Linked DNA regions of Homo sapiens. The protein of the gene in region 1 interacts with the protein of each later gene in a biochemical or structural test. Each region holds a gene or a part of one and is shown on either strand. Other genes may lie near its edges. The genes, in order: SMAP1 and ENG.

Region 1 (4,622 bases):
TCCTTCGTTGCTTCCTAAATACTGTCAATCCAGGAAACACAGCTGGTGATTCAGTAAGAAAATGTCAAAACCCAATTGACATACCTCTACCAACTATGATAAGGCAAGATAATACAGGCACCTCAAATCCTAAGCTTTAGTTTTGGTACATATTCTCAAAGATCAGTGGAAGAAGCTTCTTTGAAAGAAAGAAAATTGAGTTAACTAGGAAATAACTTTGAAATACAGTACATGAAAAGTTTGATGCAATTTACTAGACAGTGAAGAAAACATCAATACATACACAGAATGAAACTTCTTAGTAACTGAGCTGTAGAGTAAGACCTTTAACATATCTTTTAAAAGTACTATATTTATTATGTCATCCTAGCATATAGATCCAAAATCATGTAACAAGCCAAGAATTCTACTAAAAAAGCCTCCATAATGTACTTCAACCTTACCAAATACTCAAAAACTGTGAAAATATATTTACATCAATTGCTCTATCATGTCGAATTTTTCAATTATTACAACCATGAAATCAAGTCTAATTAAATCAATAAGTGGCCTTACCTGTGATTTTTTGCCTGAAAGATCAAGATAAAACAATGAAATTATTTACAAGATCATTTTAATATTCTTCTAGATTTAGTAGCAACAAGAAAAAAATAATCCTTGTAAATTATACTGTGGAGTTCATGCCCTTCAAGCTGCACCCTTGTACTCTTGATACCATTCTCTTCTCTCCCACTTCCTTCACTTCTCAAAACAAGTAAACCAACAAAAGGCCAGACAAAACCAAAATACAAAAGACATTCATTCAATATATATCTACTGATTTCCGTGGCAATACAAACACTGAGCAAAACGAATACTTCCTATTCTTCAGGTCCAAAGAAGTAAAACTTTTGATCCTAATTTAAGAAGTACATGATTCTCTTCTCCCCACCTCAAAAGAGTAAATAAAAAAAAAAAAAGTTAACATGGTTAATAATGGCTTTTAAAAATCTGTATTATTTTAGAAAGCATTAGTGAAAATCTGATTTTATAAAGTACTTTTTTGGAGACAGAAATTTGAACAAAAATTAAATTATTTTTAATAAAGTCTGTAGATGAAGGAAGGTTAATTCTGAAACTGTTACTATTCGACTTTTAATGAACAGATTTAATATTTACCAGCATCTCTACTTAACCATGTTATTACTCAAAATGACAAAATGTGTACTATTTAGCTTCAGCTTCTTTCTTCTTCTTGGCCTTTTAAAGGACCATTTTTCAGTGTTTTGCTAGTGCAGTCAATGAGCAAGCAACTGAGCCTAAACACAGTGCAGAACTCCCAAATAACCACACACAATCAAGTTACTAGGAAAACAAGTATTACAAGAACCAGGCACGGACTTTGTAAAAACTCATCACCTGAAAAGGTTACATAGGATAAATATAATCTTGACTCAATCAAGTTACTATATTGAAAAGTGCTTCATAAAAATAATCTAGTTACAGTATTCCCGCATGATTCTTCTAGTAATTCAGTACCTGTTACGACAGTGAAGTAACCTGCTGATGCTGTGTGGCTCAGTCTAGTCAAATATTATCAGCCTACTGAAATGTGACTCATTTATATAGTATTGAGATAGAACAGTAAAGCTTCAGGAAAAGTCTAAGTCAAATAACACAGAAATCTTAAAGGACATTCCCCAAAGAGACTGTCTCCTGCTTTAGAGAACTACCCTATTTCTCACCCAATAACGAAATAAACCAATTAAAAATATACACGATCTTTTCTTAACTACACAAGACATTTCTTTAAAAAAAAAAGAAATATTTCCCTTGAGATTACTTACAAGACATTAAACATAAATCAGATCTCCAAACACAAAACATAGCAGCTAAAAATAGTATATCTGTTTCAAAGGCTGAGGCAGAAGCCCTCCAACCGAAAAAACTAAAATTAGGTTTTTTCCATCTCTAGATCTTTAAAATGAACCTTCAGCATTTATGAGGTACACAAATCAGTGTCCACATATTCTCCCAAACTAGCTGGTCAGAGAAAACCTAATTACTAAAATCTTCAGAAATACAAACCCACCGTCCTCCAAGAGACTCATGTAATGAAATTCCTCTTCATTCTGGCTAATAACCAGACTAAAAAACAATACTACTACTAATAAAGACCTTTCTCCAATTAATTTATTCCGTAAAACTCAAACCCACCGAAAAAGACCACCATACTCTTTTTCAGGAAGCAGAGATAAAAGCCTTGTACAAAAGCTGTCAGGTGGGCAGGCAGGTAGGGCTCCATCTAGGAGACCAAGAATCCGAGCCCGGAGTGGGAGGACGTGGTCACACCGGAGGGTAGAGGAGGGGATCCAGACCTAAGCGCGGCCCCACCCACAGAGATAGCTATGAGCAGAGCTAGGAGGGCAACTCTCTAACCCTAAGCTCTGCCCAGACCCGTGCCCGGTTCCGCGCTCCCAGCCTCGCTCCTACCCCCAGCCCTGTGGAGGGTCCGAGCATCGCTACCCTGGCACCTGCTCAAACCCGTGTCTGGGAGGAGGGGAGGCTGGGGCCACTGACAGGGCCTGCGGGCCTGACCTCGCCGCCGCCTCTGGCGGACTTGAGGGTCGACAGGAGCCCCGCGCCCGCCCGCTCAGCCACCCGCCCTCCAGTCAGGGCAGGAGCCGGCCAGCGAAGCCGAGGCGTCCGCTCGGGCCCCGAGCGCCGCAGCGGCGGGAAGGTCACCGGTCGCAAGAGGCCCCGACCGTGGGCAGCGACGACGTCCAAGCTACCTTTGGCCTCGCAGTCGGCGCAGTACTTGTTGTCCTCCTCCCTCAGAAGCTTGGATAGGATGAGCTGGTGCTGCTCGTTCAGCTTCTGAGCCTTCTCCCGACAGGAGCGCGTCGCCATCTCGGCAGCGGGGCGGGGAGCCTGGGGCAGCTACGGCGGCGGCGGACGCTGGCTGGAGCCGGGCAGAGTGAACGCACCTGGCGCCGCCGGGACCGCGGGCGGACTCAGCCCAGGAAGCGGCAGCGGCAGCTGGAACGGGAGGAGGGGCGGCGGCGGCGGTGGCGGTGGTAGCGCCGACGTGTCCCGCCTCCTTGACCGGCCTGCCGGCACGCACCACCCTAGCCGGCGAGGGGAGGGGGAGGGGGACTGGGTCGCGCCGAGGCTTCCGGGTGGCGCGGAGGAAGGAACCCGGGCGCCGAGCGCGCTGCGCATGCGCCGAACCTACGGGGCCCGGGCTGCCGAGTCTTTTTGCAAAAAGGCCTTCTGCCCAAGGTGATTCCCGAAAGGTAGCTGGCACTGCCTCATACGAGCTTTCCCCCCTTTTGAGATGTGATGGTCCGCAAGGGCCTCTAGTAAAACCCAGTAATGGAAGACCTTTTACAAGAAGCCTACTTTGACTTGCCCATTTGCCTTTGCTCTTGCTGGCACAACATTGGAAATGCAGAAATAACTAGCGACTGGGTGGGTTCATTTACTCATTCGAGGTTTATTCGCCTGCAGTTTAGAAGCTGGAGACACGGATGGAAGAAAAGAGGAAAAACGGTCTCTTACATTTTAAGGGCGAGAAATAATCTAGTAGTGACATGTATTAGGGGATAACATTTCATTGAGTGATTACTCTGTTAAACGAACTGTTAGCTCATTTAACCCTTTCCCCAACCTTATGATATTGTTATCCTCATTACACAGGGGAGGAAAGTGAGGCATAGAGGAGTTAAGTAACCTGACCAGATTACAGAACTACTAGTGGAGGAGTTGAGATTTAAATCCAAAGCAGTCTGGCTCCAGAGTCTGAAAGACCTGGCAGTAAGCCCTTCCATAAGGGGGAAAGTGTGACCAGGAACCCAAGTACTAGGCGGTGATACTTTAACAAGAAGCTGTGTAAATAGTGATCCTTAATGCAAGAGAAAGAGAACTAAAGAAAACACTTTTCATTGGAACCCAGACCCTAATCCAGGCTCATGAAGTTTGAACTCCGGGTGACGCAGTTTCGATGATTTGGCATGTTGTATATTATGAGGAAGTTCTAATATGGGGCTTATGCAAGCCAAATAAACACAGTCCTTGCCTGCGATGAAGCAGATGCTAAGAAAGGCAATGAGCAAGAGTCGGTCTTACACTTCTTAGTAAGGCCAATTTCTAGCCCCTGTCCCTGCATAAAAGTGACCCTCATTGCTACCTAGCCCTGTTCTTGGCACAGGGGCTCAAAAATGTTTCTGGAATTAAATTGAATGGATATGGCAATGAAGATGCTCAGTAATTAAACAAATTAGAGCTTATACTACATAGCTCTGACAAATAACTACTAGGGAGATATTGGTGAGTTCCAATGAACAGAAAAAAACATTATGTGGGAGGTAGAACTTACGAGCCTTGTCCTGAAGATACGCTGGATTTAGATGGGGACTGGGGAGGGAGATATTAAGAAAGAGCAGCTTGCACAAAAGCATGAAGACCTGAAGTACCTTGGAAAACAGACTGGAACAAAAGGTACTACTTTTGAGATAAGGCTGCATAAGTAAACTATGATAGGGTTATGGAAGACTTGGGAAGCCAGACAAAGTAGTCTGGCCTTGATGCAAATTGACAGTAGAAAACCTGTAGATTTTTGCCAGGCACAGTGGCTCACGCCT
Region 2 (3,500 bases), on another chromosome or scaffold:
ACTCAAGAGATCCTCCCACCTCGGCCTCCCAAAGTGTTGGGATTACAGGCATGAGCCACCACACCCGGCTGATTTTCATTTGATGTATCTGGCAACCCTAACTTCATGGCAGGGCCTAGGTGTGAACCCAAGTCTCCCTCCAGGTAAGGCAGGAGCTGAGCTCAGGAGACAAAGCTTCCCCTCTCTTGCCTCAAGGTGGTGGGAGGAATGGTCTGAAGGGGTTGAGAGTTCCCTAGCCCCAAGGGACAGGGCGAGCCGAGAAGGCGGCCCAGGTTTGGAGGCTGCCAGAGCAGACCGCAGAGCCCGGAAACACAGGTCCTGAGGGAAAGGAATGGAATTTCACCCTGACCCAGCAGGGTCGGAAAAGGAAATGAGGCTCCTACACCTCGTCCTGAGGAATGTGCCGGGGGAAGGGGGCTCCGGAGGAGGGAAGGAGGACAGAAGGGGAGACTGTTTGGAAGTTTGTGTCTCCATCTTGTCGCGCTCACTTCCTGTTTTCTTGGAGATCAAAGATGGGCGCGGAGAGACTGGCTTCATGTCCAGCCAAGGCCGGCTCAGAGGAGGGGGCAGGGAGGCTTCTTCTGAACCCTGGGCTGTCTGGAGCCTCACCGGCCTCCTTCCTCACCTTCCCACAGCACGTTGGGCTCTGGGCCCCAGAAGTCAGCAAAGGAAGTGAGATGGTCACCCCTTGCCATGGCAACGCCATTCCCAGCTCTGTCTTGGGAAGGAGAAGATCTGGATGAGGACTTCTGGCTGCCACGGGGGCCCAGGCCTTATATGTCGTCTCTCTGACCCTATCCTACATGTCCCAGGGACTCTGGAGTGCCTGGACATAGTGGCATTTTGGTTAAAAGCAAGCTCCCTGGAGCCAGGCTGACCTGGTTTGCCTCTCAGGCCCAATGCTTACCAGCTATGTGGCTCTGGTGAATGATTTCACCTCTTGGGGCTTCAATACCTGGTCTATAAAATGACAACAGAGCCCACATGATCCACAGAGGTGGCTGGGAGGACTCCATGAGACTGGGCACATGGCAATTCTTTCTTAAATTTCTATTTGTTTATTTTTCAGACAAGGTTGCCCTCTGTCTCCTGGGCTGGAGTGCAGTGGTGTGATAACAGCTCACTGCAGCCTTGAGCTGCTGGGTTCAAGCGATCCTCCTGCCTCAGCCTCCCAAGTAGTTGGGACTACAGTTGTGCGCCACCACGCCTGGCTAATTTTTTAAATTTTCAGTAGAGACTGGGTCTCACTATGTTGCTCAGGCTGGTCTCAAACTCCTGAGCTCAAGCAGTCCTCCCGCCTCAGCCTCCCAAAGTGCTAGGATTACAGGTGTGAGCCACCATGAGTGAGCCAGCATGCCTGGCCGGCAGCTTTCTCTTAATTACAATTATTTGACTGACTTCAGTCACTGTAGAATTGACTGTTCTAAGGGGTGGGGTGAAGTGGCGGGATGGGGTGGCCTCCAGGTGACGGTCCTCTGGGATGGAGAGGTCACTGGGATCTCCCTCACCCCAACAAAATCAAGGGCTGGTGCCATCTCCTGTCTCCAGTCCCTCTGACCCACCAGCCCCCATGTTCTCCCCACCCTCTCCTTTCCTCATCGGTGAGCGCAGGTTCCTTGGCTGTTACCTAGCTTAAGCCCCTCCTACTCAGATGGGGAGACTGAGGTCTGGAGGGACGGGACAGGTCAAAGTCTCACAGCACATGGTTGACCAGGCCGGGCCTCGGACCCGCGTCTCCCAACATGACCCAGTGTCTGGCCTGCAGATTATCGCAGCGCCTCCCTCCTTCCCTTTGGGACTTTCCCTGCCCCCTCCCCAGACTTCCAGGAACCCCAGTTCCTCCCGGATTGCTGGGGCCGCCTGGGGCCGCCTCCTCCATGCCGTCAGCCAGCGGGAGAGGCCACAAGCCTGGCCATTATGTAATGATCAGATAACAGGCCTGGCGGGGAGATCAGATAAGAGGTCCATTTATTTTGGGGCCTTTTCGAATCCTGGCCGCCCCCACCCCGCAGACGAGAATGGGGAGACAGGAGGGAGTGTGACGCCTGGGCCTGTCTCCCGGAGCCTGAGGCGGGCCCAGACCAAGTTGAAAACAATCCCCTGGCACCAAGGGAAACGCCAGGGCCTCCCGGGACTGGGTCAGAGGAGGAGCCGCTGGGGGCCTGGGTGACTGGAACCCCAAGTGAGAGACCCAGAAGCCACCTCCCACCACTGTCCCCTCTCCACCCTCGCCACCCATGTGCACACAGCACCTCCCAGATTTCCAGAGGGCTACCTTCAGCACCTTGGAGGATGATCAAGAAAAACAGCTCTGGAGCCAGATGGCCTGGATCAAATCCCAGCTCTGCCTCTTAAAATGCTGGTCACCTTGAGCAGAAGCCTAACCTCTCTGAGCCTCAGTTTCCCCATTTGCAGACCACCAATAATCACTGCAGATGCTCCCATCATGCTTACTGGGAGCCTAGGCAGCTTTACACGAGTGAACTCATTTGATCCTCACAGCAGCCTTGTGAGGTGGGCGGCGCTATTACACCCATGCACACTCCAGGAAACTGAAGACCAGGGCGGTTAAAGAAACTGAAGACCAGCTGCCCGAGGTGACCCAGCTACTAAGTGTCACGGCCTGGATTTAAACCCAGACAGTCTGGCTCCAGCAAGCAGCAGGCATTCACAGGCTGAGTGTGTCAGTTTGATGGGGTAACCCCTGTTGAGTGCCTGGTACTAAGTAGGTGCCCCAGACACAGAAGCTGTGAATATTATTTCATCATACTAGGACAGATACTTTTCTTCCCGCTGCCACCCCCCCTTTTCTTTTCTGAGATAGAGTCTCACTCTGTCACCCAGGCCAGAGTACAGTGTCTCGATCTCGGCTCACTATAACCTCCCCGTCCCAGGTTCAAGCGATTCTCATGCCTCAGCCTCCTGAGTAACTACAAGTGGACCACCACACTCAGCTAATTTTTGTATTTTTTGTAGAGACGGGGTTTCGCCGTATTGCGCAGGCTGGTCTCAAACTCCTGGGCTCAAGCAATCCACCCATCTCAGCCTCCCAAGGAAGATACGTTTCAACAAGGGTCCTTCTTGCTGCAATGCCTGCCCCGTCTTGTTCAGTACCCCCGGGCCACTCTTTACCCTTTTCAGGCCCAATTACAGCCTCACAGGTTTCCCAGCATCCAGCCCAGCCACTGCCCCCAGCCACCAGGAGGTCTCAGCATGCCTTGGCCCCGGGCTCCCCCCTGGTTCTACGATGCCTGCAGGGTCAAGTTCCTGCACTGCAGCCTACAGTAGAGGTGAAAAGCACAGCGATTTGACAGATGCCAAAGGTTCAGGTCCTGATTCTTCCACCTGCCAGCTGCCTTTCCATCCTCAGTGTTCTCATCTGTAACATGGGGATGAGGGTCATCATAACAGCTTCCCATGGAGTCGGCAAGCAGGCCAGTAAATTACACCTGCACAGCGCTAGGCCGGCTCCTGCTAAGTGGGGGTTGCTCAGGAACTGG

What was found.
Region 2: the proteins of SMAP1 (region 1) and ENG interact on a protein array, tested with the Homo sapiens proteins (one large-scale study listed by IntAct).

What each region holds. Positions count from the first base shown.
Region 1 is NC_000006.12:70,666,291-70,670,912, reverse strand, and holds the start of SMAP1 (stromal membrane-associated protein 1), read right to left. Parts: upstream 3,031-4,622; 5' UTR 2,890-3,030; coding exon 2,772-2,889; intron 2,384-2,771; exon of another isoform or gene 2,285-2,383; coding exon of another isoform or gene 2,197-2,284; intron 1-2,196. UniProt on the Homo sapiens protein: GTPase activating protein that acts on ARF6. Plays a role in clathrin-dependent endocytosis. May play a role in erythropoiesis.
Region 2 is NC_000009.12:127,844,659-127,848,158, forward strand, and holds part of ENG (endoglin isoform 1 precursor), read right to left. Parts: intron 2,478-3,500; exon of another isoform or gene 2,285-2,477; intron 1-2,284. UniProt on the Homo sapiens protein: Vascular endothelium glycoprotein that plays an important role in the regulation of angiogenesis. Required for normal structure and integrity of adult vasculature. Regulates the migration of vascular endothelial cells.